Linked DNA regions of Homo sapiens. The protein of the gene in region 6 purifies or fractionates together with the protein of the main gene of each other region. This does not show direct contact. Each region holds a gene or a part of one and is shown on either strand. Other genes may lie near its edges.

Evidence for each region.
Region 1: the proteins of ITM2C (region 6) and LRRFIP1 purify together in Homo sapiens (co-immunoprecipitation; one large-scale study listed by IntAct). This does not show direct contact.
Region 2: the proteins of ITM2C (region 6) and NIBAN2 purify together in Homo sapiens (co-immunoprecipitation; one large-scale study listed by IntAct). This does not show direct contact.
Region 3: the proteins of ITM2C (region 6) and POMT2 purify together in Homo sapiens (co-immunoprecipitation; one large-scale study listed by IntAct). This does not show direct contact.
Region 4: the proteins of ITM2C (region 6) and CUX1 purify together in Homo sapiens (affinity purification with mass spectrometry; one large-scale study listed by BioGRID and IntAct). This does not show direct contact.
Region 5: the proteins of ITM2C (region 6) and ITGA2 purify together in Homo sapiens (co-immunoprecipitation; one large-scale study listed by IntAct). This does not show direct contact.
Region 7: the proteins of ITM2C (region 6) and ASS1 purify together in Homo sapiens (co-immunoprecipitation; one large-scale study listed by IntAct). This does not show direct contact.

What each region holds. Positions count from the first base shown.
Region 1 is NC_000002.12:237,779,865-237,782,143, reverse strand, and holds the end of LRRFIP1 (leucine-rich repeat flightless-interacting protein 1), read right to left. Parts: 3' UTR 501-2,279; downstream 1-500.
Region 2 is NC_000009.12:127,520,574-127,524,073, forward strand, and holds part of NIBAN2 (protein Niban 2), read right to left. Parts: intron 3,274-3,500; coding exon 3,106-3,273; intron 1-3,105. UniProt on the Homo sapiens protein: May play a role in apoptosis suppression. May promote melanoma cell invasion in vitro.
Region 3 is NC_000014.9:77,275,884-77,279,383, reverse strand, and holds part of POMT2 (protein O-mannosyl-transferase 2), read left to right. Parts: intron 1-514; coding exon 515-655; intron 656-875; coding exon 876-990; intron 991-1,902; coding exon 1,903-2,008; 3' UTR 2,009-3,500. UniProt on the Homo sapiens protein: Transfers mannosyl residues to the hydroxyl group of serine or threonine residues. Coexpression of both POMT1 and POMT2 is necessary for enzyme activity, expression of either POMT1 or POMT2 alone is insufficient.
Region 4 is NC_000007.14:102,254,626-102,258,733, reverse strand, and holds the end of CUX1 (Homeobox protein cut-like 1), read right to left. Parts: 3' UTR 501-4,108; downstream 1-500. UniProt on the Homo sapiens protein: May be involved in intra-Golgi retrograde transport.
Region 5 is NC_000005.10:52,992,352-52,995,851, reverse strand, and holds part of ITGA2 (integrin alpha-2 precursor), read right to left. Parts: intron 1-3,500. UniProt on the Homo sapiens protein: Integrin alpha-2/beta-1 is a receptor for laminin, collagen, collagen C-propeptides, fibronectin and E-cadherin. It recognizes the proline-hydroxylated sequence G-F-P-G-E-R in collagen.
Region 6 is NC_000002.12:230,877,345-230,879,748, forward strand, and holds the end of ITM2C (integral membrane protein 2C), read left to right. Parts: intron 1-55; coding exon 56-206; intron 207-663; coding exon 664-755; 3' UTR 756-1,904; downstream 1,905-2,404. UniProt on the Homo sapiens protein: Negative regulator of amyloid-beta peptide production. May inhibit the processing of APP by blocking its access to alpha- and beta-secretase.
Region 7 is NC_000009.12:130,454,961-130,458,460, reverse strand, and holds part of ASS1 (argininosuccinate synthase), read right to left. Parts: intron 61-3,500; coding exon 1-60. UniProt on the Homo sapiens protein: One of the enzymes of the urea cycle, the metabolic pathway transforming neurotoxic amonia produced by protein catabolism into inocuous urea in the liver of ureotelic animals.

The DNA.
Region 1 (2,279 bases), 6.9 Mb from region 6:
GAGGAATTCTAAAACACAAGAGAAAATAACATTTGATTGTAATTCTGAACTGCATTGGATTTTTATCTATTTATGTTATCCATTTATGATGTGTTTTGAGTGTTTTGCTCTATGTCCTAGATGTTATTTCATTTCTAAAAATGAAAATCATTCATAGGAAACATACAACAGGGATCCTGGTCTGGGTTTTCAACCATTTCTTTTCCAAATCTTCTAATTCAGGTTACAGCAGTGGTTCTCAATGGGAGGCGCTTTTACACGCCCCTCACCCCCGCAGTGGACATTTGGCAATGTCTGGTGATGTTTTTGTGTGTCATGACCGGGAGTGGGGTCTACTGGCAATGAGTTGGTAGAGTTCAGTGTTGCTGCTCAACATCCCACGGTGCAGGGGACAGCCACCCCAGCCACCAAGAACGACCCAGCTCCAGACGACCGTCGTGCTGAGGCTGAGAAACGCTAGGTTGCAGGGATGAAAGAAGCCAGCAACCAATTTCCATTCGTTACATCTGCAAAAAAAGTTTTATTTTACTAAATAAATTTAAAAATCGTGTTCTAGCTTCCTCTGGATTAGGAAGTGTGTGTAACATTGGTTTGCTGTTTCCAAAAGAATTGGTGGGAGAGGTAGAGACTGAAGGCTTGACTTCCTCAGAGCCACTGATAGGGAAAACGCCATCTTCTCAGGGCTGTGAGACACCTGGGAATCGATGCCTTGCAGCCCTGTTCTACCAGCTGGGAGACTTCTGCCAGTTCACCTTCCTGGACCCTGGGTCCCTCATCTGTAATGTGGATTTGATAACAGCATCTACCTCATAGAATTTCCGTGCAAATGAAATGAGTGAAAATATGTGAAAATTGCATGAGTGAAAAATACCTAAAAGCGTCAGCATGCTGCCGGCCGTGTCTGCGTGATGTGTGAGTGTTTGCTGCTGGTGTTATTCACGCATGACATAGACATTTTCCCAGTTAAACATGCTTGTATTCAGATGTTGTGGAAGAAACCTTAAGGATGAGACAAGGAACTGAATATCTCCCTTTTGCCGGTGGGCCCAGCATGGTCAGCACAGGGTCCCTGAGGGGCTTCGTCCAGCTTCCTTCCTCTTTCCTGTTCATACGGTGCCCGGGTGTGCAGTGTGGGTCTCCCAGTGGTGCCCACCTGCCAGCACATTTTGCTCACCTGTCCGACCCGTGGTTTCCTACTTGCCAGTGTTGGCCCCCAGCCCCCTATAACTTGTCTGCTTCCCAATGGGCAGTGGCAAATATCCTCTGCACAAGGAGATACAAAAATCTTGTGTATTTTAATAGAGATTTCATCTCTTTCTTAATGCAACGCAGCTGTGTATATCCTAGATCCATACAGTTCTGGGGGATGGACACTGGTGACCCCTAGCATTATGCTGGGAGTGTTTTCTTGATTATATACCCTGAACTCACAACCCTCACTCCAGCATTCTCCATGTGTTAAGACTAGATATGGTTTTGGATGATACTGACTCAGTTTCCACTTGCTAACGTCCCGAAAAGCTGACTGGCTTCACCAGCCATACTTGAAATACAACATATATGAACAGTCACTAAAAATCAGCAGGTAGCTAAACGTTTTTACTTTTGTCCTTGATGATATTGCCATCGTCTCTACTGTTACCTCCTCCTTCACTTCACTTTTTAAGTGCACTCATTCTGTGAAAACACCTTTTTTTTTAAATAGGGAAAGAAAAATGAATTGACTTGATATTCTTAAAAAATAAAAAGATGACCCAAAATATACAGAACCATTAATATGAAATTAAAGATCTTCTTTCTCAGTGGAAAAAAATTAGAACCACATTGCTGAAGTCTCTCAACATTTCATTTTTAATTTTTCTAATAGTACATTCTTTAAAAGAAGTTAACGACTTCAATTCCAAATATAAGGATTAAATAATGCAATGAAAAGCTGTCATTTTCAGTGAAGCTATTGCCTAATTACCCTGGAAAAAAGTATTCTTATGACTGAACTGATGCAAAAATCCCTTAGAAAAGCTTCATTTGTTGCCTGTAAAGAGTCTTCTTAAGGTCACTTTTACTTCTAGACTGCCCCCTTGTTTCCAGTGAAAGAGTTTTGCTTGGTAATGGCTTGTGGTTCCACAGTGTTTTGTGTATGAAAAGCGTAGACTAAGAGATACTACTGAAGTCGCTCAAATTGTAGATTCTGCCATGAAAGGAAGTCCCAACACTGTAACATTTCCCCTTAATCTTCAGCAAGACACATGAAAAAAAAAAAAAACTCAAGTCCCAACTGA
Region 2 (3,500 bases), on a different chromosome or scaffold from region 6:
GGGGATGAGGATGGGACCAAATCCAATACAACTAGTGCCCTTAAAAGAATAGTACATTTTGGCCGGGCACAGTGACTCACGCCTGTAATCCCAGCACTTTGGGAGGCCGAGGCGGCAGAATCACGAGATCAGGAGATCAAGACCATTCTGGCTACAAAAAATTAGCCAGGTGTGGTGGCACACGCCTGTAGTCCCAGCTACTCGGGAGGCTGAGGCAGGAGAATCACTTGAACCTGGGAGGCGGAGGTTGCAGTGAGCCGAGATTGCGCCACTGCACTCCAGCCTGGGTGACAGAGCAAGCCTCTGTCTCAAAAAAGAAGAAAAAAGAAAAAGAAAAAAAGAAAAGTACATTTCTTCTTGAAAGAAGAGAAAACACAGGCACACAGAGGCATGACCCTGTGAGGACTCAGGGAGAAGGCGGCCGGCCACCAGCCAAGGAGAGAGGTCTCGGAGAAACCAGCCCTGCTGACACCTTGCCCTCGACTCAGACCTCCAGCTGGGAGAGAACATATTTCTGCTGTGTAGCTGCCCGGTCTGTGGTATTTGTTATGGCAGTCTTGGGAAACTGAGGCCCCAGCCCTGGCTGAGGCTGCACACACATCAGCTCGTTGAATCCTCAGCTCACTGTGCCCTACTTTTCCCAGGGAAAGAACTGAGGCTCAGAGAGGCAGTTACTGCTCGAGGCTACTCAGCTAGTGGATGGCAGAGCGGGGCTTGAACCCAGGACCAGCTGACTCTAGCCAGACCTGGAGACCTTCCAAGAAAGGAAACTGCATTCCTCACTCCCAGGCAGCAGACAGAGGGGGACCACGGTCAGACAGGAAGAAGCCTTGACCTCTGCACCCCAGGCCAACACTGAGGACCCGGCACAGCCAGTGCCCCAGCTGCCTCCTGCCACCCCCAGCTGCTCCAGGAATGCAGGATGTGAAGGGGTCCCTGGGACCGCTGGTGTCCGCCCAGTTGGCCTCCTTCCCCCCACCCCCCACTTCCTGGCAGCCCCCGGAGTGAGCAATTCCAGGCTTCACAAATTCCAAGCCCAGCCTCCAAGACGGAGGAAGCAGAGAACTTTCTCACAGTCCGCAGGGTGGAAGGAAGGCCTGAAACCAGCCTCGTCAGCTCCCGCCCTGGGGAGAAGGGGCCACCCGGCAGGACACCTTCCTGGCACAGGACACCCCTTCATTCCCTGGCCCAGCAGCTCTCCTGGGCCTCCCTCTGGTCCACTGCACCTTAGAACCAAGAACTCCCCCATGGCCTCCCCACTGAGTGCTCACTGTGCGTGCCAGGCCCACGGCCAAGTGCCCCACCCAGACCAGCTCTTCCCAATCATCTCTCAAGCTCAAGTTTATCATCATCCCCACTGCACACATGGGGGACTGAGGTGGCCCTTCCCCACCTTGTTCTGTGCCCACCCCTTCCCTATCTGGCGCAGGTCACCCACCCTGCCAGGCCAGGTCAGCCGTTAGCCTTGGAAACCTGGAGAGATGGCACCAGGCCAGGGGCTGGGGAGGCGGGAGGGCCCTGGGCCAGGCAGCCAGAGCCTTGAGTGCCTCCACCCAGTCCCAGCCCACAGTCCCCGGGACCTGGGAACAGGAGGCCCTTTGTGGGCAGCTGGGCCCAGGTGGCAGGGGCTGGCCTGATTGAAGACCTGGTTCCTCCTGCTTGGCAGATTCCAGACAGGGCAGAGGTGGCTCTGGAGAGGCGAGCAGGAGGGGTGGGGTGAGCTGAGTCCCACGGCAGCAGCCCAGAGGCCATTGGCGCCCACTCCGTCCCCTGCAACCTTCCACCTCTGCACCATGTGGCACTGCGCCCAAGGGTGGGGCGGGGGCAGGAGCTTCCCTCAGGCCAGATCACCTGGAAGCAGTTCAGTGTCCAGGACTGGGTTGTTCCTTCCCTAGGGGCAGAAAGACCCCCAGGGACCCACCCTCACCTTGGAAGACCATCCTCAGCCTTTCTGTTCAAATTCCTTAGAGGCCTTCAAGGCTTTTCCAGACCTGACCCCAGAGGCCCCCCTCCAGCCCCATTTCAGGTCACCCCCTCCCTGCTTCAGGGCCTCGTGCAGTTCCTCCTCCGGGCCTACCCCTACCACCTGTGGGTCTCCCTTCATGCTGACTGCCTACCTCTGCCTGGAACACTCCTCCCCTCTCCTCTATGCAGGATATGAGGGGCCCTGGGACTTCTGGCATCTCCTCCTTCAGGTCTGGGACTTCTCCTTCAGGTCTCTGCTGAAGCTGAACCATAACCTCCTCAAGGGAGCCTGCCCTGATCGACCCCTCCCCCAACACACACACACCCTCAGGCTCCCAGGTTGGCTCCACCCAGCACCCAGCACAGCTGTGAGCCATCGTGCTGGCATCCTCATCTGTCTATCATCTGTCTCCCCTACCAGACTGCCAATTGTAGGAGGGCAGGGAATGTTTCTTGCTCCCTTGTTGCACACCCAGTGCCTAAATCTGGGCCTCCTCAGAGTAGACACTAAAAATGTTTGTTGAATAAATGAGTGAGCTGGAAGAGTCACCCCATAAGTTTACAGATGAGAGCAATGAGGCCCTGAGGGAGGCAGTGAAGTTTCCAAATCACCCTGCAGGTTGGTGGTTTTAAAAAAAAAAAAAAAAAAAAAAAATATATATATATATATATATATATATATATATATATATATATATATATATATATATATATAAAATTAAAAAAAAAATCTTTACCAAGCATGAGGTAGACTCTAAATCCTCATAACCCCCCTAAGACACACAAGGCATTATCCCCACTTTACAGAGCCTCCAAGAGGTAAGTCAGTTCCCTAAGGTCACGTAGCTGGAAAATGGCAGAATCAGGATTGTGACTTTGTGACTCAGGGTCCAAGGGCTCAACAACCACACCCCTCTGTGAATAATTTCCTACTTTTTTCCTGAGCAGCACAAAACTGTTTTCATCAAGAAAGAAGACTAAGGGTGGTATTACATGGTTTCTTATAACCCCAGAAGGGAAATTAGAACAGCCTGTAGAGCAGGGTTGCCACACCATAGTCAGCCACTAGGTGTCACCATTCAGCAATAACCCAGGTCCTGCCCCTCCCTCCCACCGACCCTGCACCCACAGGCCACTCACCATTGTTGCAGTGCCGGATGCAGTCCTGCAGCACAGCCTGCCACTTGTCCTGCTCGGCTTCTGTCATCATGCAGAAGTAGTAGTGACGCGCATAAGGATGCCAGAGGATGAGCGGGAACTGTGTGGGGCACTTGAGGATGGGGGCACTGCCCGACTTTGCCGTGGTCCCTGTGGAGACAGTGCCTGATGAGCAGCTGCCCTCTGTGGTTGCCCTCCACCAGAGGATGTCAGAGAACTGATCCCTTGGCATCAGCTCTGAGGTCAGGCTCAGGCCCAGAGAAGGCCAGCCTGTCCCAAGGTGACCAGCAAGCCGGCGGGGGTGGGAGCAGCCTTCTTTCTGGCTGTGTTCTCCTCAGCCCAAAACCTGAGTCCAGCATCCGTGCAGACCCATTTCT
Region 3 (3,500 bases), on a different chromosome or scaffold from region 6:
ATTGAGTTCCCATCCCAGTGCTGTTCTTGGTAACTTTGGCTGCCAGACCATGGGCCACAGCACCTGAGACAGTCACACAGGCCCTTTTGCCTCTGCAGCTCTCTGTCTGAACAGTCATAGTCCCAGACACCTCCTCACTCCATCCTCACCTGTAACCTCACCTTAGCGCCTGTCTGCCGCTGCAAAGATCTGTGTGGCAGCAAAGATGTGGGAGGTGGAAGTAGGGAGTGAAGCTGTCTGCAGGCGCAGAAGGGTTTCTTTAGAGGCTGGGCTGCCTCCTGCTGGTGCTTGGTGCACCTGCCATTGGTGCCCAGGCCTCACTAGGCTGGGCCCTGACCAGAGCTCTCGAGCCCCAGCTGCTCCTCTCCAGTTTCTGTAGCGTGGTTTGGGTTGGTCCAATGAGGTGATATGACATATTCAAGGTCACACAGCAAGGAAGGGGCAGAGCTGGACCAGAGCCTGGAATCTCTGCCCGCTCCTTGTCTTCTGACTGGGCTGTGCTGCTTGGGCCCAGGGTTGTCCCAGGTCCTGCTTCGAGGAGGCGGCCAGGTCCTGCTCGGCTGGACACTCCATTACTTCCCGTTTTTCCTGATGGGCCGGGTCCTCTACTTCCACCACTACTTCCCAGCCATGCTCTTCTCAAGCATGTTGACAGGTCAGTGCCACCCACCTGGACTTGGGAGACAGAGCAGGTGGAGGGCGGGCCACTGTTGGGCAGCAGTGCTGGGAGTGACTCTGCTCCTTGACGGGAGGCCACTGTGGGGCAGCAGTGCTGGGAGTGACTCTCTGCTCCTTGACTTGGAGTGCCTCCTTCTTCTGTAGCCCAGAAGTCACCCCCTGCCTGGCTGACTCCAGGTTTCTCTCCTCTCCTCTAGGCATTCTGTGGGACACCCTCCTGCGGCTCTGTGCCTGGGGCTTGGCCTCATGGCCCCTGGCGAGGGGCATACATGTGGCGGGAATCCTGAGCCTGCTCCTGGGAACTGCCTACAGGTGAGCATCTCTGCACCTCACATGCCCTCCCAGTGTGGGCTCAGCAGTGCCTCAGCCCTGATGCATTCGAGAATCCCCTGCGGTGCTTTTAACACCACCAGTGCCCATGCCTGGAGGTTCTGCGTCACCCAAGCCCAGGTGGGGCCGTGGTTTCCAGAGTCCCCCAGGTGATCCTAATGTGCAGCCAGGTAGGAGAAGCAGGGCTTAACTCTGCCTTTTCCCCTTCTGCCGGTGGTTCAGCTTTTGTGCCATCCCAGCGCACCTGGAAGGGTACCCCTCTAGTGACAGTGACTCTGTGCCAGAACAGCTCTCAGAGGGGGAGTGTGGGAATGGGGGGCAGGGAACCCCTCTTTAGTCACCATGGCCCCCTGTCAGAACAGCTCTCCGGGTGAGGGAGGGGGGAACCGGGGGGCAATGGGGGACAGGGCACCCCTCTTTAGTCACTGTGGCCCCCTGCCGGAAGAGCTCTCGACGGGTGGGGTGGGAAGGGTGGGAATGGGAAGTGTGTGGCTGAGTGGCTGAAAGGGAGAGTTGTTTGGAAGGCTCCCCGCTTCCCCAGTCCCTGGCCTTGGTGCTGGGCCTGTGGCCTGTGAGCACATGCCTGCCTAAGAGGGTTACATTCACATGTTGACAAACACCCCTGGCCAAATAGCCCATGACAAGACCCCTAGAAGGGTTGCCCTCCTGGGCCTCTTGGGAAGAGCCCTTTCCATGATTGTCATTGAGTCAGCATCTACTAAGCTCTCCAGCTACAGTGTGCCCCAGTGGGACTCAGACAGACAAGGCCGTGAAAGAGAACCGGGCTTGGCGATGGGGAATTTCTCTGGAGCTCCAGCAGGAGGAATGGAATTCAAAGCCCCTCAGCTGAGGCACTGGGGGTGCCAACTGCCTCCTACTGGTTCTCTCTCACAGCTTCTACCTCTTCCACCCTCTGGCTTACGGGATGGTTGGTCCCCTGGCCCAGGACCCCCAAAGTCCAATGGCAGGACTAAGGTGGCTGGACTCATGGGACTTTTGAGGCCACTGCAAAGATTCCAGCCTGGGTCCAGGAACTTCCCAGGAGAGCCAGCTGGGAAGCAGTACTGGACCATCCGGCCATGAGGAAGCTGCCTAAGGAGCCCGAAGAATTCTGCTGCTCACCAGGACCCAGCTCTGGGAGTGCAGCTGGAATGGAACCCAGCATTGGAGAGAGCCGGGAGAGAGCCGCAGCTCCGTCCACAGCACCACGGAGAGGACAGCGCCTCTTGGGCTGCTCCCTCGTGCACAGCGCAGGGGAGGATGGGTGCCAGAGGGTGGGAGTGGGTGCGCGTGTGTGTATGTGAGGGCATGTTGTCCATATCCCTGTGGAATACAGACCGTGTAACTGGACAGCTGAGTGTCATAAACTCTAAAATAGTCCAGGCTATAGTAATATTTTCTGGTATTTTTTTCTGTTGGATTTCTTTGGTTTTGGTTTGTAAGATCCATCAAAAATTCTCAGACCTCTGAGAGGGCCTTGAGGGCAGAGAATACTGACCTCACCTTGGGATGTCACCAAAGGCAGAGCAGATGGGACTGTCAAAGTTGTGCTGCCCTCCCTCCCACAAACAAATGAATCCAGCGTGGAGGAAGGCGCGCCGCCCCGAGCTGGAGGGCCTGGCTCCCACCATGCCCCCCAGTGGCTGCAGGTAGCTGGACTTCCTGCCTGTGACGCACAGAGAGCAGCGGACTCCGGAGCGTCAGCCTGCCTTAGCCCTTGGTTCCTCGTTTTTTGGGATTGTCACACTGTGACACTCGGGAGGAACGATGTCCTATCCTGGGCTGCTCAGTGTTCCCAGGCCCTGTGTGCCAGAGGCCAGGTCTCTCCAAGTGCATCTAGCCTGGCCTGGAGGGCAAGGCAGATGCATTCTCCTGGCTGCTGGGAGAGCCCATGGGAACCTTGCTTAGCGCCCAAGGTAGATGAGAGACAGGGCAGGGAATCTGCGTGGTGCTGGGATGTGGGGACTCTGGCCTCTCCAGACTAATGTTCCTGTCACCTGCTGAGCTTTCCCAGTGTCACTTCTGCAGTCCTCCTCTGCTCACCCCTCCCTCACTCCGTGGGCAATTCCCTTTCTCTCTGTCACTGCTTCAGCAGTGAAGACCCATGGCACCTAGAAATGCATGCCAGCTTCCTGCGTCTACCACTCTGCAGCTCAAACAAGAAGCTCAGAGCTGCCCCTTCCACTTCCTCCCCAAAAGGGATGAAGAAAACCCTGTGGTAGAACCAAACCACCCAAGGCCAGCCCTTAAGCCTGCCTCCACCTTCCTGGTGCATGACAAAATATTTCTTTTGTCTCAGAGGACTTTGATGCTTCAATATTTAATGATGAATCCGCCACACTCCATTTTCCCTCCTCTGAAGCTCCCAACAACTCTGACAGGGTCAGATCTCTTTAAAGCATCTTCAGGAGGCGGTTGCCACGGAGACTGGATATTGGTCCCAGGGACAGGCTGTGCTACCTACTGGGTGGTGGGGAGGGAAGCTTCTGGCC
Region 4 (4,108 bases), on a different chromosome or scaffold from region 6:
TGACCAGCTGCAGGCCACACGGCAGAGGAGACTGGCCGTAGTCCTGGTCGCCCAAGTGCCATCGATTGGGGCTGCCACCACCAGCCCAGTGCCGCACCAGCACTGGCCACCATTCCTGGTTCCCCACAGCAAGCCTATATGACAGGAGATGGTGTCTCCATTTTACAGAAAAGGAAGCGGACGCCAGGGAGGGTAAGGGCTTGGTTCAAGGGTAGGCAAACAGTGCTGGTGACAACAGCAAGTAGGAACGCAGGCCCTGGCGAAGCCCTTCCTGTGAACCAGATGCAGATTGACAGAGCAGTGCCCGAGATCCCCATGTATCCTAGAACCACACGGTTTTCTGTGTGCCCGGAAGCCACACGCCCGAGGACCTGCGGACAGGTGCAAAGGGGACGACCTCGGGAACGGCGATTCTTGAGGTGCCCTTTGGACCTCGAATGACAGTGTTTGCTGCTCGTCCTCAGGCCAGAGCACTTTAAATAAAAACAACCCACACATTCTTGTGTTTGTATAAAAGATATTTACTTCAATTATCACACCTAGGGTGCTAGTGAATAATAATACATGGTGTGAGTCTCATACAGTGATATTGCTTCTCCGTATTATATAGGGACCGTTGTACAGTGCTGAGAACAAACATCGTATGGCTAACCAAAGACAGAGGGACAACACCAAGGGGCCGACGGGTGCCTCCCCCACCCCCACGCCAGCCAGGTCAACTTTGACTCTTAATGTAGAAAAACAAATAGCAAGAAATAAAATGTTACCAGAGAGATGTCACACAGCAACACACCAGAGGCATCTCAAAGCGATTTGTACAAAAAAAAAAAAAAAAGACGACTTTTTTTTTTTCCTTTTTTCTTTTTTGGTCAATTGGGTCTCTGTGAGGATTGGAGAAAAAAATCTGTGATTGTGAGGATGAACAAACAAGCTCTAGAAAGATCTAAGACTTGGTGCGTTACAGAAAATATAAAATACTGCTAAAATGTAAGACGTGACAAAACGCTAGAGTGGGGGTGGGGTGGGGGGAGCTGAGCTTATAGAGAGTTTTCCGGAAGATTCCGCCACCCTGTGAGTGCGTCTTGTGCTGTTAGTAGTCTGGACAGGAGCGTGGTGCTACCCGCTCTCAAGGCAAGCAGCAAAGAGTTATTGCACAAACGCAAAGAACTAGGTCTCTTATTCAATGCAAAGGGATGTGGGGAAAACCACCTTCTTTTTACCCCCACTTTTATTTTATAACAAGCTATTCTCCAATGTTTTAAGAATTTTGGGTGAATTCTCACATCTCCAGAATACACGGGATTTTTTTTTTCCAAGAGGTCTCAGATGGGGGTACGTGAGATGCCCGTTTTCTCAAGGGAAGAGGCAGAAGATGGTTTGAGAGAGAGAAATGCATAGACTAATTAGAGAAAAATGAAAAAAAAAAAGGCTTCTGGGGAGATGGGGACCATTGTTTCGGTGGAGGGTTTCTTTCAAAGAGAGAACAAAATCAGGGCCCCCGGCAATCTTGGAGAAGGGGAGGTGATGATATGGAAAGAGATGCTCTTCCCAGCCTACCTTGGGGTGAGCAGGGCCCTTGCCTTGGCCTGGGGTAAGTTTCCTTCTGCTGGGCCCATGGGATCAAGGCAGGGCGCCTCACCTTCACACCTGATTGGCAACAACTGGGTGTCCTGCTGGCTGAGCTTGGGGCCACAGCAAGCAATCTCCACACCCAACCTTCCTCCACGTTGAACCACCTATAGGGGAAAGGGGCCCTCTGCCTATGATCTCCTAGGTGAGCCCTCAAGCCACAGCCTGGTACTACAAAACACTGTTGCTTTGAAAGATGGTTTTGACCAACTTTGTACGCAAGAAAAACAACAACAAAAAACCAACCAAAACGTATCAACCCATGCGGGCCTTGCAAGAAATCACTCTCTCGCTTGGAGGTAAAGTCTTGGCCAGGCCACCGCGCCCTCTCTGACCACGGCTCGCCGAAACTTCATGAACCCAGAAGTCTTACCAGAGGCTCTAGGAGGCTTTGGGGAACTGAACTTGGCTTTGCTAAGATTCCTCTGAAGCTCCTCAAGCGAGCATTCTTCAACTCAGCAACTCCCTCACACGTTGGTAAATTTTTTTGTTCATAAACACTCTCATTTAAAAAGTTAGACACATAGAGACCACCAGTTTTTGAGTGGCTACTCTGGAGACAGGTGTTTGATTTTGCTGGGGAAACCCCCTCTGCCCCCCAGTCAATCCCCCAGACGCCTTGGTTCTCTGGGGGAGTAGGGGAGGAGAGGAAGGCAGAGGATAGTAACCACTAGAGTGACAGCAAAAAGCATTTATGACAACAAAACACAAAATAACAATACACTCCTGATAAGTACTTAAATGATTAACCTAATAATAAATAGAAGAGGATAGAAATAATTTTTTTTTTCTCAAGGAAACATCCTTTTATAATCACCCTCACGCACGCCGGCAGGTCAGTAGCAGTCAGTCCATTTCAACAAGACAAGATTAAGTGCTGGAAGGGATGGCTGTGGCCTCAGACACTGGGGAAGGGTCTCAGCTTCTGAATCACGGATACTCCCTATCCTGCCTCGTCAGGCCAGCGGCTCCGGCCAGAGCCCGCGGGCCCTGCACGCCCAGCACAGTGGTCACCAAGAGGCAGGCTGGGAGACTGGAGGGAGTCGGGGAGGCCTGTTTTCCCTTCGGTTCATGAACAAACGGAACTACAGTGAACAAACTCATTCATAACCTGAATCGTCCTGGTCTAAAGCTTACTTTGAGTTCATTTGGTGTGCAATACGTTATTTTTTTAAAATGAAGAAAAATGATTTCAATTGCACAGAGCTTTTACACATAGTCATCTATTTAAGTGCTTTCCGTTTAAAGCAAAGTACAAAAAAAATAATAAAATAATAAAAAAGAAGAAGGAAAAGGGGGGAAAAAAGAATTATAAAACAAAAGCAGCTCCGTGCCACTTCAATGTGTCTTGCTGAATGGTCTCTTGTTTCACCAGCAGAAGTCCCAATGCTTCCGTACACACTGTGCTTCTGATTAATTTCCATAGGGATGTAGCCGTGACATTGGGATATAAGGCACCTTTTCTTTCTGATTACAGAAAGCTTGATACATAGCATATAGCATATTTTGTGGTAGAAATTAAAGCGTAAACACTACAGAAATTACAGTAACGTAGACTAATGCTTTCTTAACATTATCGGGTAAACTAAAAGGATTCATGAAAAGCAACTCAAAGGCATCTTAAGAGTTTAAGAACGGGGGCATGGGGGAAGTGCACATTTATGCATAGCCAAATGTCTTTCTCTCGCCAGCCTTTTTTTTTTGTCTTTTTTTTTTTTTGGGATTTTTCGCCTACAATGCCCAACTTTTAAAGTTAGCATTTTGGAGGAGACTAGGCGCTTTGGAAATGTCTTGTTAAAGCTAAATGTCACTTCATCCAAAAATGAAAACTCGAGATGATGCCACGGATGGCATGGACACGGTTATCTTTGGAGGGAAGGTGGTGGTGGGAGAGGCCTGGGCAGGAGGAGGCAGTTTTTGGAAGTCGGGCAGACAGGCGGAAATTGCATTTCCTTCTATTCCCCTGACCAGGGTGGTGAGGAGCACAGGCCGCCGGGGCCTCTGGGATTGGGAAGACTGGGCTGGGGGGCCGGGAGTAGGGCTGGGGCTTGTTTTACGCTCTGCCCCCCACACCCCCTCCTCTTCCGTCCTGATTAAGCCCAAGGGTTGGTGGACTTAACTTTCAGCCCATCTCTAAGGGTTTCACAGACTGGATCTTTCTAAACTTTATTGGGTACCTGCTTCCCCTTTTCCCTGGTAGTTTTCATCTACAAAAAGTCAAAACCTGATCGAAATAGAAATAAGATCATCAAATTGGACCATTCTCTTAGCGTTCGAGTGTGCCGGCCAGACTGGCATTCAGTACACGCTGAGATCCAACCACATCACACTGGCCTCAGGTCACCACCTCGCCACTCAGGGCACAAGCCCTGCCCTTGTGGTCACAAAGGCTTCCCTAATGTCGTCGATGCCCAGGTGAAACCACAGAAGCACTGAGGGCTTTCTAAATGTGAGCTTTGGCTGGTCAATGCCCAAGCAC
Region 5 (3,500 bases), on a different chromosome or scaffold from region 6:
GCAGTTCCTTGAGCCATGGCCAAAGCCCTCTTCTAGTCCCTTTGCCTGACTCATCTTGTTAATGTCCTATCTTCAGTTATTCTCTAGGTGCCAATGACTCCTAAATCTCTATCCCCATCTTACTTTCCTGCCTGTTCCTAACGCCACTACATATAACTATTTGCTAATTAGACATATACATCCAGGTGTACATCCAGATGTCTCAAACTCAATCTGTTGACCTGAACTGATCATCTTTTTCCTCCAACTTGCTCTCCTTCAGCACTGCTTATCTCAGTGAATGGCACAAAATCAACTGACTTGTCCATGTCAGAAACCTAAGCATCAGCCTTATCTTCTCCCTCTCTCTCCACCTCCATAGTAAATCAATCATCAAATCCTGTTCACTCTTCTTCTTTAATGCCTTTCCAATAAATCCTCCAGTCTCTTTCCCTACTGCCACTATCTGAGTTTTTACCACCATCATCTCACAACTGGTCTCCTAAACTAAAACTAAAACCCAAACATATTCTTTCTTAAATGATCTTGGTGCTTTCCACCTGGCCTCCATCCAACCCACTCTCCTCATCTGATCATGTCACTCCCCTGCTCAAGGCCCTTCAAGACCTTTCTACTGTTCTCAGGATAAAACCCCTGCTCTATATCATGACTTACAAGGCCCTTCAAGGTCTGGTGGCTGCAACTCAGCTTTCACTCTCTGGGAACAACTTGAATACCACATTGTGGGCATAAGGACCTTCTGTTTTCATTGCGTCAGTATTCTATTCAAGAACCTAAACATCTGCCCCAGGAACTAGGAGACGAGTCCTATTGCTAGTTATGTTGCTTGCTTTTCTAGTATCACTTACATCCATTTTAAAAGGTAGAAACTGTACTCCAGGATCTCTGAGGTTCTTCATGGCAGATCTAAATTGTAATGATTCTTACCTGTTTCCATGAAGACATCTCAGGAGGCTAGACACTTCAATGTATCACAATGATATCTCTCCATCCTCTGAATTCAACATGTTATCTGTACCACTCATTAATTGTGAACACATGACATCTATTATGCTATGGAAACTGATGTTACAGCTCTCTAAGTTATAGAAAATGATATAACCAAGTTTTAAATTATATGAAAATTTTAAAGACACCAAGACATACTATAGTCTTAAATTCCAATAATTCAGAAGTTCAAAGACAACATCAAAGTCCATTTCTTTCCATAAGGCTAACTCCAATATACTAGCTTTATCCTTAAGCTAGTTGACATCGCAGTTGCAAGATGGCTGTAGTTGTTCCAAATTTCACATATAAACTTGACAATATTTTCTTTAACAAATATCTCTCTTAGGAATGAAAATTCTTTTCCCATAAGTCACCCAGCAGATCTCATTGGTCAACCTTGCATTACATGCCCATGGCTAAATCAGACACAGCCCAGATGCCTGGGACCAGCCTAATCACCCTTCAGCATCACCTCAATTTTTTAGCTATGCAGAAGAGGATGGTAACTCAATAAATGGACTTCTGCTAGAAAGGAAGATGACAAGGGGCTGAAATTGGTTAAGTATGCTTCAGGGCTGAGACAATTTCCTTTCCCCATGTTTGGATTTTTTTCCAAATAAACTCCAACCTCTCTCAGCCATGTTTTAAGTTTTCTCTGATTCCACCTTGAGCCTAACACACAGCCTTACATAAAGTAGATACCTTATAAGAATATTATCAAGTATTAGTTTTATGAAATTCACTGTAGCCAGATCAATAAAGCCTCTATGGATCACCTGAAGGGGCATAGGAATCACTGTCATACACAGAGTCTATTGTCTCATGATTTGCAGTGCTAGGATTCTCCCCTGTAGGGAGCCACTCTTCTGTATGTTCTGCTGGTAAATGATTGGTCACTGAACAACTGGAAAAAAAGAACTCCACCAACCTTCCATTTCTTTCACTTGCCAATCAGAGCGGTGATCTTTCATGGTTTCTCTTGTTTTATGCTGTGCTAAATCTTTTACTAATATCCCAAGCTGAGCAGTGTTGGTAGTCAAGACTTATGGCTTTAGTGGTAGAATTTATGTGATGCCTGGACACTTTTGGCCCCAAATATTTTCCCCATTCTTCCTGAAATTCTTGACTTTATACACATTGACTGAACATGTGTCTTTATTTTGCTGAATGTCTAAAATTACATCATGAGAAGCTCATCTCTTTACATTAACAAGCTTCTACCTTTTAATATCTCCAGGGCTGTCAGCACATGAAGACAGGGAGTAGTCATCATCCACTTCGGAAGGAATTTAACTGACACAGCCGCTCACAGCCACTAACTCTTGATGTTGAAATCTACCTGTCTTGGTGATCATCCCACAAGGTGGTAAGGGGTAGGTAACACTGGAATTTTAATCTTAGGAAAGTGGGGAGGCAGTGATGATATTTAAGCAATCACTTCCAAACCAGACCATACATCAGAAATATATGAGCCATTGTAAATACTGAATCCTAAACCCCAGTCCATAAATTTAAGTCAAACAGTGGCTCAGGACCTAGTATTAAGAGAGCAAAGCTTAGCTGAGGTTGGGCAGGTATAACTGCTAAGCCATAGGGGAGCAAAGTTACTTTATCAGAGGGCGGCCTAAGTCCCATTAAGGGGCTGAGGATGAGACCAGAGAGGTGGTTTAGGGTGGGACCCAGCAAAGGTAGGTTACCTCAAGCTTTCCTTTTTGTTGCAAAAGTAAAAGTTCTCTACTTTATAATTTTGCTTGGGATTGACCCTTCTAGCATTGGATAATGGTCAGTTGCAAAGAGATGAGTGAAAAGGGGTGAAAGCAACAATGCAATGAAGGCAAAGGGAGTATTTGGAAAATATTTTCACACTAAATATGGTATGATCAGGTGTAGTCATAACAAAGAATGGTGTATATAGATGGCTTTAGAGTGTGTACATGTGTGGGCATGTGTGTGGTGTGTGTGTGTGAATGTGTATTTGTGTTCAGGAAAGCATACAGTAAAGAAAAGATTGGATAGGTAGAATGTACCTTTTTATGACATGCCAAGAAATTGGCACTTTACCCTACCTGAGATGGGGAGCCACTAACATTTGAAACAAAGCAGTAATTGGAAACATATAAGTGTCTTAGAAAGATATCATTAGTGAAAATGAAGAGAATGGGTTGGAGAGATAAGAAAAGAAAATCCAGTTTAAAAGTTACATACAGACATAAGATGAGGGACTGACTGGGTGGCAGGAGTTGCATGGATGGGAGGAGAGCCAAGAGAATTTGGAGAGTGGCTGTGAGGTTGAAAACATGGGGACAAATTCCTGGCTTTCATGTTTGTGTGATAATAATACTGCCATTAAACAATGGTAGCCAATAGAGGAGAAAATTCTGGAGGACACGTATTAAATTCAGTTTTGGAAATGTTGAATCTGGCTTACTTACAGACTGTCTAGCTGGAGAAATTTGGTGGCTGATGGAAATACTGATCTGGAACTCAGAAGGGGAGGCTGGCTGGAGATA
Region 6 (2,404 bases):
GGTTGGACGAAAGCCTGAGGGGCCGACTCACTGTGGCGGCCACCTTGTTTTGCAGAGGGGGACCTACCTGCCGCAGACGTACATCATCCAGGAGGAGATGGTGGTCACGGAGCATGTCAGTGACAAGGAGGCCCTGGGGTCCTTCATCTACCACCTGTGCAACGGGAAAGACACCTACCGGCTCCGGCGCCGGGCAACGCGGAGGCGTGAGTGGCTGGCTTCACCCACAGTAGCCCCTGTCCCGTGCCCCAGACCACAGTTATCTTCACGCCTAGCCCAGCTGTCAGAGAGCTCAGATAGCAGCAGCAATAACAGCTAGCATTAGCAGAGCACTTCCGTGTGCCGGGCAATGCTGTGTGCTCTTTATGACCTCTTAAGAGTGTAAGTCATTCTCATCCTCATTATTATTTTTGCTGCCCATTTTAAAGATGAGGAAACAGGTGCAGAGAGGTTAACACCCTGGAGGTCACACAGCAGGGAGGTGGCAGACATGGGCAGGCTGACTCCAGCTTTCGAGCTCTCCCCATTTCTCACTGTGCTCTTTGGGTGAATCTGGGTGAATGGTGTCACTTCCTGGCCCTCCTGTGGCTCAGGCTGAGGCTGGTGGTCTTTGTGACTCAGCCAGGATGCAGGGCTCACTGGGGTTTTTCTTTTTCCTCCCAGGGATCAACAAGCGTGGGGCCAAGAACTGCAATGCCATCCGCCACTTCGAGAACACCTTCGTGGTGGAGACGCTCATCTGCGGGGTGGTGTGAGGCCCTCCTCCCCCAGAACCCCCTGCCGTGTTCCTCTTTTCTTCTTTCCGGCTGCTCTCTGGCCCTCCTCCTTCCCCCTGCTTAGCTTGTACTTTGGACGCGTTTCTATAGAGGTGACATGTCTCTCCATTCCTCTCCAACCCTGCCCACCTCCCTGTACCAGAGCTGTGATCTCTCGGTGGGGGGCCCATCTCTGCTGACCTGGGTGTGGCGGAGGGAGAGGCGATGCTGCAAAGTGTTTTCTGTGTCCCACTGTCTTGAAGCTGGGCCTGCCAAAGCCTGGGCCCACAGCTGCACCGGCAGCCCAAGGGGAAGGACCGGTTGGGGGAGCCGGGCATGTGAGGCCCTGGGCAAGGGGATGGGGCTGTGGGGGCGGGGCGGCATGGGCTTCAGAAGTATCTGCACAATTAGAAAAGTCCTCAGAAGCTTTTTCTTGGAGGGTACACTTTCTTCACTGTCCCTATTCCTAGACCTGGGGCTTGAGCTGAGGATGGGACGATGTGCCCAGGGAGGGACCCACCAGAGCACAAGAGAAGGTGGCTACCTGGGGGTGTCCCAGGGACTCTGTCAGTGCCTTCAGCCCACCAGCAGGAGCTTGGAGTTTGGGGAGTGGGGATGAGTCCGTCAAGCACAACTGTTCTCTGAGTGGAACCAAAGAAGCAAGGAGCTAGGACCCCCAGTCCTGCCCCCCAGGAGCACAAGCAGGGTCCCCTCAGTCAAGGCAGTGGGATGGGCGGCTGAGGAACGGGGCAGGCAAGGTCACTGCTCAGTCACGTCCACGGGGGACGAGCCGTGGGTTCTGCTGAGTAGGTGGAGCTCATTGCTTTCTCCAAGCTTGGAACTGTTTTGAAAGATAACACAGAGGGAAAGGGAGAGCCACCTGGTACTTGTCCACCCTGCCTCCTCTGTTCTGAAATTCCATCCCCCTCAGCTTAGGGGAATGCACCTTTTTCCCTTTCCTTCTCACTTTTGCATGTTTTTACTGATCATTCGATATGCTAACCGTTCTCAGCCCTGAGCCTTGGAGAGGAGGGCTGTAACGCCTTCAGTCAGTCTCTGGGGATGAAACTCTTAAATGCTTTGTATATTTTCTCAATTAGATCTCTTTTCAGAAGTGTCTATAGAACAATAAAAATCTTTTACTTCTGACCTTGACTTGAGTGTGGCTGGAGGGGAGATGGGTGTAGGAGGGGTGCTCCGGGCAGGGTCGAGGAGCTGGACCTCGGGAGCAGCAGGCAGGGAGAAGCCTGCAGACCTTGACATCTGGCCCCTAAAGAGCTGGGCATCCTGGATTCAGCCAAGGAGTGTAGGATATCCCCTTCGTAGCACCCTGGATCTGAGCCAGGTAGAGTTCACACTTTCCGGGTGAGGAGGGGAACAGGGCTGGGAGAGCTTACCGACTCGCCCAAGGTCGTGCTGCTTTAAGTGCCTGTAAACCACCCTGTAATGTTCTACCTGGCAGATGACATCATTATTGCATGTCCTTAAGCACAAGGGCGGTGTCCTATTCTCCACCACGTCTGGACAATTTGTAACCATTCCTGGAGGATCTGAAGTGAGGTTTGGTGTGATAATCACAGGGTCACATTCTCCAGAGAATTCTGGAAGCGGCAGGAGAGCTGGCCAGAGCCATGTCTAGGTGGACCCCA
Region 7 (3,500 bases), on a different chromosome or scaffold from region 6:
CTGGATGGCCGGCCAGATGAACTCCTCCACAAACTCCCTGCTGACATCCTCAATGAACACCTACGGGAAGAGGAGCCCAGAAGGAAGAAGTAGGCAAGGACAGGGGCCATCTGGCATACAGAGCCCCAGGGGCCTCAGCTAGCTGAGACCTATACGGGGCCACCCCCGCTGTACCTGGTGCTTCTTCTTCTGCATCTGTAGTAGACATCATTCATCAATCCCAGCACACTGCACTGTTACTCTCCCTCCTGCACTCATGGCAGACATTGCTAATCAATAGCTCTCTTTTTTTTTTTTTTTTTGAGTCGAAGTCTTGCTCTGTTGCCCAGGTTGGAGTGCAGTGGCTCAGTCTCAACTCACTGCAACCTCCGTCTCCCAGGTTCAAGCAACTCCCCTGCCTCAGCCTCTTGAGTAGCTGGGATTACAGGCGCATGCCACCATGGCTTGCTAATTTTTGTATTTTTGGTAGAGACGGGGTTTCACCATGTTGGCCAGGTTGGTCTTGAACCCCTGACCTCAGGTGATCCAGCTGCCTCGGCCTCCCAAAGTGCTGGGATTACAGGCACAAGCCACCGCGGCCAGCCTGCTAATCAATCCTGATGCACCGTTCTGTGAAACTGGATGTGGCTTCTAAATCAGCCCCAACAAGATGAAACTTAGTTGTCACCTAAGATCTCACAGCAGTAGTTCCCAACCAGAGACGGTTTTGTCCCTGTTGGGGGTGGGAGTAGGGGAGGCATTTGGAAGTATCTGGAGATATTTTTGGTTGCCACAACTACCAGGTGGGGGGTGGAATTCTGGCATCTAGTGGGTAAAGGCTATGGGGATACTGCTAAAATCCTCCCGTGCACAGGACGGCCAGCCACACGGGAACAAGGCCAAGACTGAGAAACCCCGATCCAGAGGAATGGTTCTTGAAATGTAGACCCCCAGGGGTTCCCAATGACTTTTCAGGGAGACACTGAGTGAAAACTTTTTTTTTGTTTTTTTGAGACAGGGTCTTTCTCTGTCATCCAGACTGGAGTGCAGTGGTGTGATCCTAGCTCACTGCAGCCTCAACCTCCTGGGTTCAAGCAATCCTCCCACCTCAGCCTCTTGAGTAGCTGGGACTACGGGCATGTGCTACCACGCCCGGCTAAGTTTTTTATTTTTTGTAGAGATGGGATCTCACTGTGTTGCCCAGTTTTCTTCATAAACTTCAATAAAACAAGGCATCACATAGCGAGGAAGCCCTGGGAGGCTAAAAAAGAAAAACAAACAAACAAACGAAAAAACAAGTGAATGCAGAAAACCGCTACAAGAGTCCATCTGTTTTCTGTCAAGCCAGACATTACAGAGATTTGCAAAAATGGAAGCCAATAAGATTCTTAACTAAAATTTTTTGTTTGAGAAAATAGTTATTTTTCATAAGTGTAATGTTACTTATGTTAACATGAACTGTTCATTTAAAACATTTCAGCTTTTATTTCTAATGTGATAAATATCAACAGATGTAATCCACAAAAGCTCTCTAAGGCCTTCAGTAATTTTTATTTTTTTGAGATGGACTCTCTGTCATCCAGACTGGAGTGCAGAGGTGCAATCTTGGCTCACTGTAACCTCTGCCTTCCGGGTTCAAGTGATTCTCCTGCCTCAGCCTCCCGAGTGGCTGGGACTACAGGCATGTGGGGTTTCTCTACTAAAGAAACTAGGCTGGTTGGCCAGGCTGGTCTCAAACTCCTGACCTCAAGAGATCTGCCCACTTCAGCCTCCCAAAGTGCTAGGATTACAAGCGTGAGCCACCGCACCCAGCCAAGGCCTTCAATAATTTTTAAGAGTCGAGAAATTCTTGGTACTGCTTTTGCAACTTCCTGTGTCTATAATTATTTTGAAAAAAATCCTTTTAAAAAATGAAATAAAAAGGCATAGAAAAGAAAGCAATTGGGACTAAGGATATATAAAAAACATTAGGATAAATGTGTTTTTGTGTTTGTTTGGTTGGTTGGTTGGTTTTTTTTACAGAGTTTTGCTGTTGTTGCCCAGGATGGAGTGCAATGGTGTGATTTCAGCTTACTGCAACCTCCGCCTCCTGGGTTCAAGCGACTCTCCTGCCTCAGCCTCCCGAGCATCTGGGATTACAGGCACCCACCATCGCGCCCAGCTAATTTTTGTATTTTTAGTAGAGACAGGGTTTCACCATGTTGGCCAGGCTGGTCTTGAACTCCTGACCTCAGGTGATCTGCCTGCCTCAGCCTGCCAAAGTGCTGGGATTACAGGCGTGAGCCACTGTGCCTGGCCCATCCTAATGTTATATGCAAGAAAATAAACATTAAAAACGCCACGTAAATTAGAGTGTAGAGGATTCCCAAGACCACAAGTTTTGAGAACTGCTCATCTAGAATAAAGGACAAAAGCTGAAGCCGTGCACAAAGCCTGCTCCTGCGCTGCTGAAAGCGCACTCGAATCTTCAACACTCAGGGCTCTTTCTCCCCTTCCTGGACTACTGCTCAGACAACCCCTCTGCTCTCCAGCACTCGGGAGGCACAGAACCAAGGAGGGACATTCTAGTTCCAGGCCTGTGGCCAGTAGGTGACTTGGGACTGGGGCATCCACTCCCTCCCGTGTTCATTTTAACATGCTAATTACCCTGGCAACCCTGCAGAAGCACCCCACAGAGGGGATCAGCTCTGACCCTGCAGGTGGGCTGGTGGCCTTGCACATCATCCCTGCTATGTCCCCTGCTCACTCTCCCAAATGAAGGGGCACAAGTGGCAAGGGCTTCTCCATGGGGAGTGAGCACATGTGAGCAGGGGTCCTGATGACACTGTTCATCATAAATGCCCTGTATGGGACAGGGGTCTGCCTGCCACATGCCTAGATTCACAATCAAGGCACCAGACTCAATTGGAGTTCTCTGATTCTGTTGAATGAATGGAAGAATGGGTAGACAGAGAGATAAAAGAGGGAAGGACAGGTAGGGGGATGATGGACAGAAGGATGGATGATGGATGACAGATGGATGGATGGATGAATGGATGGATAGAAAAACGGTGAATGGATGAAGGATGGATGGATGGATGGGGGATGGATAGATGAATGGCTGGCTGTCTGGATGAATGGATGGATAGACAGTGGAGGGATTAATGACAGATGGATATGTGGATGGATGGATGGATAATGAAGGGATGGATGGGTGAATGGATAATGGGATGGATGGATAGATGATGGATGGATGAATGGATGGATGAATAGACGGATGGATGATGGATGGATGCATGGGTAGATGATGGATGGATGAATGGATGATGCATGGAAGGATGAAGAATGATGGATGGATGGATGGATGATGGATGAATAAATGGATGATGGATGGATAGACGGATGATGGCTGGATGAATGGATGATGGGTGAATGGATGGATGGATGGATGATGGATGAATGGATGGATGATGGATGGATGGATGATGGGTGAATGGATGGATGGATGATGGATGAATGGACGGAGGATGGATGGATAGATG